2 linked regions of the Homo sapiens genome follow. The protein of the gene in region 1 purifies or fractionates together with the protein of each later gene. This does not show direct contact. Each region holds a gene or a part of one and is shown in the gene's direction. Other genes may lie near its edges. The genes, in order: FAM78A and ASNS.

Region 1 (3,820 bases):
CTCAGGTGATCCACCTGCCTCGGCCTAACAAAGTGCTGGGATTGCAGGTGTGAGCCACTGCGCCCAGCCCAGAACTCTTTTCATCTGCAAAACTGAAACTTCGTCCCCAAGAAATATCAACTTTCCGTTCCTCTTTCTCCCAGCCCCTGGCAACCTCCATTCTACTTTCTGTCTCTATGAATTTGACAACACTAGGGACTTCACATAAGTAGAATCACACAGTTTGTGTTTTTTTGTGGCTGGCTTATTTCACTCAACATAACGTCCTCAAGGTTGATCTGTGTTGTAGCCTGTGTTGGAACATCCTTCCTTCTTAAGGCTGAAGAACATTCCATTGTACGTATGTAGCACATTTTGTTTATCCATTTATCTGTCGTTGGACACTTGGATCGCTTCTGCCTTTTGGCTATTGTGATTAATTCTAGGAACAGGAATGCATTTTTTTTTAGAGGTAGGGTCTCACTGTGTTGGCCAGCCTCGGCCTCCCAAAGTGCTGGGATTAGAGGTGTGAGCCACTGCGTCCAGTTGGGAGTGCTTTTTTTTTTTTTTTGCAGACAGAGTCTCACTCTGTCACCCATGCTGGAGTGCAGTGGCACAATCTCAGCTCACCGCAAACCCAGCCTCCCAGGTTCAAGCAATTCTTCTGCCTCAGCCTCCTGATTACAGGATTAGAGGCATCTGCTACCGTACCCCGCTAATTTTTTTTTTTTTTTTTTGGAGACAGAGTCTCACTCTGTCGCCCAGGCTGGAGTGCATGGCGTGATCTCGGCTCACTGCAACCTCTGTCTCCTGCCTCAGCCTCCTGAGTAGCTGGGACTACAGGCGCATGTCACCATGCCTGACTAATTTTTTCTATTTTTTTTAGTAGAGACAGGGTTTCACCATATTGGCCAGGGTGTTCTCAAACTCCTGACCTCATGATCCGCCCCCCTTGGCCTCCCAAAGTGAATTTTTGTATTTTTAGTAGAGACGAGGTTTCACCATGTTGGCCAGGCTGGTCTTGAACTCCTAACCTCAAGTGATCAGCCTGCCTCAGCCTCCCAAAGTGCTGGGATTACAGGTGTGAGCCACCACGCCCGGCCAGGAGTGCATTTTTAACAGTAGCTTGTTCCTGGGAGTACCCGCTGTGCACGTAGGTGAGCAGAAGGCGCAGTGGGCGCAGGGTGTCCTGAGCTTCCCTGTTACAGGTGCCTTGGTGGAAATGCGCCGGGGTCCCAGGCCCCACCGCTTGGCCAAATGTCCTTAGGAAAATGTAGCCTCACTCTCCACCCCCAGCCCACCACTTCACTTTCTGTATCTGCCGGGTGGGGTTGCATGGAGAAGATTGTCTGTGAGCCTGTAATGTTAAAGTAAGGGGCCCCTACAGTCTGGGGTGGGCTCCCAGATGCTACTATATCCATGGCCACATGGGAGTGTGGGATCTGTATGTCCCTAGAGCAACTTGGGCCAGGCCGGCCACCTTCTTCTGTCTGAGGGTTATGATTGTAACAGCAGCAGTGATGACAGTGACTCCGAGCTACTGTCTGACCCCCTGCCCCCAGAACGTCAAAGGGGACCGGGTGGTCTGCTGGGTCCGTTCCATCCTCAGGGCCCAGGACAGCCCCTGGCCTGCCAGGGGGACACAGAAAGCCCTCCTTGAGTGACCGAGTGAGTGAACTGGCCTTCCTTGTCCTCAGGTCCAGCTGGGAGCTCCCCGACCTCCAGGAGGGCAAGATCCAAGCCATCAGCGACTCGGATGGGGTGAACTACCCCTGGTACGGCAACACCACAGAGACCTGCACCATCGTGGGCCCCACCAAGAGGGACTCCAAGTTCATCATCAGCATGAATGACAACTTTTACCCCAGCGTCACATGGGCCGTGCCCGTCAGCGAGAGCAACGTGGCCAAGCTCACCAATATCTACCGGGACCAGAGCTTCACCACCTGGCTGGTGGCCACCAACACCTCCACCAACGACATGATCATCCTGCAGACGCTGCACTGGCGCATGCAGCTCAGCATCGAGGTGAACCCCAACCGGCCCCTGGGCCAGCGCGCCCGGCTGCGGGAGCCCATCGCCCAGGACCAGCCCAAAATCCTGAGCAAGAATGAGCCCATCCCGCCCAGCGCCCTGGTCAAGCCCAATGCCAACGATGCCCAGGTCCTCATGTGGCGGCCCAAGTACGGGCAGCCGCTGGTGGTGATCCCGCCCAAGCACCGGTGACAGCCAGGACCACCCGCTAGGTTAGACTCACAAATAATAATACCGCTGAAAACAAAACTCAGACTCACTCTTCAGTCATTCAGCAAGATACAACCATTCTACCCTCTCCAGCGGGCGGATCTCACTGTGCTGATGCCCCCGGGAAGGCCTCCCCGGCTCTCGGCACCTGCTTCCTTTCAGGGAGAGGGGAGATCTAAGCAGGACAGACAGACCCCACGTGCGCCCTCAGGGTGACCTCTGGTCTCCTTGCCTCTCCTTTTTCTCAGTTTCAGTCGCTCACTTGTAACAGATTCCCTGAAACACTGCTTTTTCCGTTTTTTAAAAAAACTCCTCTTTTGGGGGCTCAGGGGCAGGAGGAGGGGGAGCTGATTAGGAGGGAAGCTCCAGCCCCCGATCAAAGAGACAGATCCACACTGCTGCCGATTTGTGGCGCTGGCCGGCCTTCCCCCCAGGTCCCTCCGCCCTCTGTCATGCGGCCTTATGTAGACTTGCTTTGCCAAACTTTTGCCTTAAGCTGAATTGAAAGGAAGAAAACCAATCGGAGAAAGAAAGCAGGATCTCTTTTCTACCGGACTTTTCCTCTTCTGCCAGAGGTGGAGGGAGGGTTGGGGTCGCCCGCGAGAGTCTCTTGAGCCCTTCTTCCCGGTTGTCTTGGGAGAAGGGTGAGGATGGGCATTTAGACCCGAAACCAGCTGCTCACTCTTTCTTTTTGGCAGAAATAAAACCACAGGTAGATTCTGCCTGAACAGCCCCTTCTCTCCCTCCACCCCCAGGTCGTATCCCTGCACCTGCGGAGAGGGGCTGTGAGCTCTGGCGGGGGGTGGCTCCACCAGTCGCCTGGCCTCTTCTCCCCTCTCTTCCCAGCAGCCTTAACTTCCCTTGGGCGGCTCTAGGAGGAGAGAGGCAGGCTCCTGTGAGCCCAGGGAATTTTCACCCTCTCAGTCCTCAGGACCCACCCCCAGTTGAGTCCCTGGCCCTTCCTCCAGGTGTGTGGCTTTTTCCTTCTCCATCCACACTGGTCCCAAATGCCTGGGGGCCGGCCACCTGGACCGCCGACACACAGCCTCAATGTTAGTCTCAAAGGTAAGGAAGGCATTCACGTCCCTTCTTGCAGGGCATTTTAAGACTTGAATCGGGTGGGCCCCGGCCCCTGTGGCTGGCTGGCCCCTGGTGTACTGTAAAAGGGCCAAGACAGGGCTCGTTCTCAGGGGCGCCCCTCCCAGGCCCTCAGGGCAGCGGGACGGTGCAGTCAGGCTCTGGGTGCCACAGTGATGGAGGTGGAAGGCACCCAAGCTCTAGGGAAGTCTTGGGAGGCAGTCGGCCGAGCCCCTGCTTCCTGTCCTCAAATAAGTGAATCCAGGCCAAGGGCTGGGAGGGCTGGGTGGGCTTATCGTCGAGAGGGTTCAGAGCCACTCTGGAGGCTGGGCTGGCACAGTGGAGAGCAACAGGTGAGGACAGACGTCTGGAAGCCCATCCCTGGGACCTGCCCTCCCTCGGTCCCAGGTCACTGGAGCTCCAGGGCTTACTTAGTCCTGACCCATTGTGCCAGGGTTCTGAGCAGTGTCGGCCTTGTGGCCACTTGCAGGGGCTATTAGGGGACATCCCGCTGAAGCCA
Region 2 (3,820 bases), on another chromosome or scaffold:
GGCAACCTATTATCTTAACTTAAATTTAGAGGTTGAGCATCCCTAATCTGAAAATCTGAAATTTGAAATGCTCCAAAATCTGAAACTTTTTGAGCACTGACATGACATTACATGTGCATTTTGATGTCACAGTCAAAATGCAGGTGTAAAACACGCAGTTTATTTGGCGTTCCCTAGGGAAAAAAGACCCTCTCAGCCCGCTTCAGCTGCAGTATAACTTTTCTACACATGCCCGGATTTCCCCATGCAAGCACGCCCACAAAGGGTAATAGAATGGCACATGTTCAAGCTGGATACGCCATTGGCAGGATCCCCACAGATGGGACTTATGTGCATTATCCATTGTGTATTTTTGCTTATTTTCTGCTCTGTGGTGTTAAGATACTGAAAATGTCAAAAAGACCTGTAGATATTTCTATGAGCAGCAGTGATAAGGAAAAGTAGAAACACTTATAACACAGAAAGTCAAGCTGTAGGAGAAACTGGACTGTAGTATAAAGGTATAGATGACATGGTGAAAATGTGTGATAGAGATATTGAAGGACTAGAGCTACCTGCATTCATAACAGAACAAGAGGTCATGTCAGTTTATAAAATCAAAGAGAGCCTTCCAAGACAAAAGCCATTGTTAATGAAGCAGATGACTCTGGAGAAACATTTAAAAGTCATCTGGCCGAATGCCTCTTCAATCTCAGAGGACCCGCTTCCTAGTTGCTCAGCTGCTTCTGATGTTTCTTCTCACCTGAAAAAGGAAAAAAAAATACAGTGTATAGTAACCTTTTAATCAAAACGCAGCATTGTAGGTGGAGTCTGAAAGCCTGCCATTGTTTGTACAGCTGTTTAACAGCTGATGCAGGTATTCTGGTGATTCTACTATGCTACTTATTACTTTCTTACTGTATTAATGGTATGTCATATTTTATAAGCATATGAAAATGATTGCTCATCAGCAGCATAATAAATTCAGAGTCAGGAATGATGGTCAATGATGTCAAACAGCCACAGATTTTCCACATGGTAGCTGAGATAGTGACCCCTTTGCTTTCTGATGGTTCCATGTATGCAAACTTTGTTTCATGCACAAAATTATTTGAAATATTATATAAAATTACCTTTAGGTTTTGTGTATAAGATATATGAAACATAAATGAAGTTCATGTTTAGACTTGGGTCTCATGCCCAAGATATCTCACATATATGCAAATATTCCAAAGTCCAAAACACAAAACACTTCTGGTTCCAAACATTTCAGATAAGGGATACTCAATCTGTATATATATAAATATATGTATGTATTACATATATGGTATGTATATAATATACATTTCCATCCCTCCACAGGTTACTGTTCTGGCACATTCCCATTATGTTCTGTTTATCAGACTGCAACTAAAATTTTCATGGGTTCGGCTTTATGTTGAACAGAATTTGCAGAATATGAGTTGAAGCGAACCATAGTTTAATAATGCTGTGATTCTCCTAAATCACCAAAGTGCATGAAAGGATTATAGAGCTCAGAAATACTGAAGCATCTTTGCAATAAAAAATTATTAGTGAATGTACAAGGAGTCTAACATTTTGGTTTTGCTTTCGCTTCCTAAGATGCAACAGCATTTTGAATTTGAATACCAGACCAAAGTGGATGGTGAGATAATCCTTCATCTTTATGACAAAGGAGGAATTGAGCAAACAATTTGTATGTTGGATGGTGTGTTTGCATTTGTTTTACTGGATACTGCCAATAAGAAAGTGTTCCTGGGTAGAGATACATATGGAGTCAGACCTTTGTTTAAAGCAATGACAGAAGATGGATTTTTGGCTGTATGTTCAGAAGCTAAAGGTAATAATAAATTTTTCTATAGATTTTCATTATTGTCTTGGTTGTACGTTTTCTTTTAAATTATATTTGAAAATCTCTTAGAGAGCAATCCAGAATTTTACAAGTGACTAAGTTATGAGTCTTTACCTTTTTTTAAAAAAACAGAGGAGTTGTACTCTCCTTTTCAGCACTTAAATTCTGTAATCCTTGAAGGATGATTCTTTAGTGCAGTCGTTTATTTTTTGCTGTGCTAATATGCTCTACATCTAGCTTGATCTTAAGTGCAGTTTTAAGTTTTCCTGTGTCATACTATAATCGTAGGGTTGACTCTGCAATTATTGCATTGTGGTACTTTGCGCAGTTATAGCACAGCAAGTGTTAGGATTTCTAAAACAGCTTTATTGATAATTCACATACCATGTAATTCACCCACTTGAAGTATACAGTTCAGTGGTTTTTAGTATATTCACAGATGTTGGTAAACAACACTCCAATCAGTTTTAGGATTGTTTTTCCACCTCAAAAAAAACCAAATCAAATCCTATGCCCTTTACCTTAGTTTTTGCTGGCAGGATCAACTAGGTTTTTGTTTGTTTGTTTGTTTGAAGAGATGGGGTCTTGCTCAGTCGCCCAGCCCAGGCTGGAGTGCGGTGGTTTGATAGCTCAGTGCAGCCTTGAACTCGTGGGCTCAAGCGATTCTCCCACCTCAGCCTCCCTAGTAGCTAGGAGTATAGGCATGCACCACAACACCCTGCCTCCTGTGCCCTTTAGCTTTGAATTCCATCTCTCCATATCCATCAGCTGCACCCCTGCAGTTGTAGCCCCGGCAATCACCAGTCTTTCTGCCTCTGGATTCCCTATTCTGTATGTTTCATATGAACGGGATTATATATCATACCGGCTTTTGTGACTGGATTCTTTCACTTGGTATAGTGCTTTCAAGATTTGTCTATGCCGTAGCATGTATCAGTACTTACTTCTTATGGCCAAATGATATTCCATTACATGGATACACTGCATTTTGTTTATTCGCTTGTCAGTTGATGGACATTTAGGACATTATTTACCCCTTTTGGCTATTATGAATAATGCTGCTATAAACATTGGTGTACAAGTTTTTGTGTGGACATTTCCCTTGGGTGTATATCTAGGAGTAGAATTGCTGGGACACATGATAACTATGTTCAGTTGAAGAACTGCCAGACTAATTTTTGAAATGGCTGCATCATTTTTTATTCACTCCAGCAGTGTATTAAAATTTCTGTTTCTCCACATCTTCACAAACAGTGTGTGACTTTAATTCTAGCCATTCTAGTGTATGTGAAGTGGTATCTCATTGTGATTTTGATTTGTATTTTCCTGTTGACAGTGATGTCCAGCATCTTATCTTATGCTTATTGGCCATTTGTATATCTTCTTTGGAGAAATATTTGTTCAGATCCTTTGCCATTTTTTTTTCCTGTTAGGGATCATTTTATTTTAAAAACATAATAGACTTTATTTTTTTTTTTGAGCAGTTTTAGAAAAAATTGAGAGGAAAGTGCAGAGAGTTCACATATGCTCCCCCTACAGTGCCCCTGCCCAGTTTTCCCCACTCTTAACATCTTGCATTACTGTGCTACATTTATTAGATTTGATGAACTGATACTTATATATTAACTGAAGTTCATAGTTTACATAAGGGTTCACTCTTTGTGTTTTATAGATTTTTGGATTTGACAAATGTTTAATGCCATGTACCCACCATTACAGTATTATGTAGAACAGTTTCATTGCCCTAAAAATCTCCTGTGCTCCACTTATTCTTTCCTCCCGTCCTCTTCCTCCTAACCCCCCAGTCATTACTGATCTTTTTGCTTTCTCTCTCACTTTGCCTTTCCCAGAATGTCGTATAATAGTTGTAATCATATAGTATGTAGCTTTTTCAGACTGGCTTCTTTCACCTAGCAGTATACATTTATAGTTCTTCTGTGTTTTTTCATGGCTTGATAGCTCATTTAT

What was found.
Region 2: the proteins of FAM78A (region 1) and ASNS purify together in Homo sapiens (affinity purification with mass spectrometry, with the first as the bait; one large-scale study listed by BioGRID). This does not show direct contact.

The regions. Positions count from the first base shown.
Region 1 is NC_000009.12:131,259,207-131,263,026, reverse strand, and holds part of FAM78A (protein FAM78A), read left to right. Parts: intron 1-272; exon of another isoform or gene 273-289; coding exon of another isoform or gene 290-336; intron 337-1,676; coding exon 1,677-2,205; 3' UTR 2,206-3,820.
Region 2 is NC_000007.14:97,862,279-97,866,098, reverse strand, and holds part of ASNS (asparagine synthetase [glutamine-hydrolyzing]), read left to right. Parts: intron 1-1,602; coding exon 1,603-1,840; intron 1,841-3,820.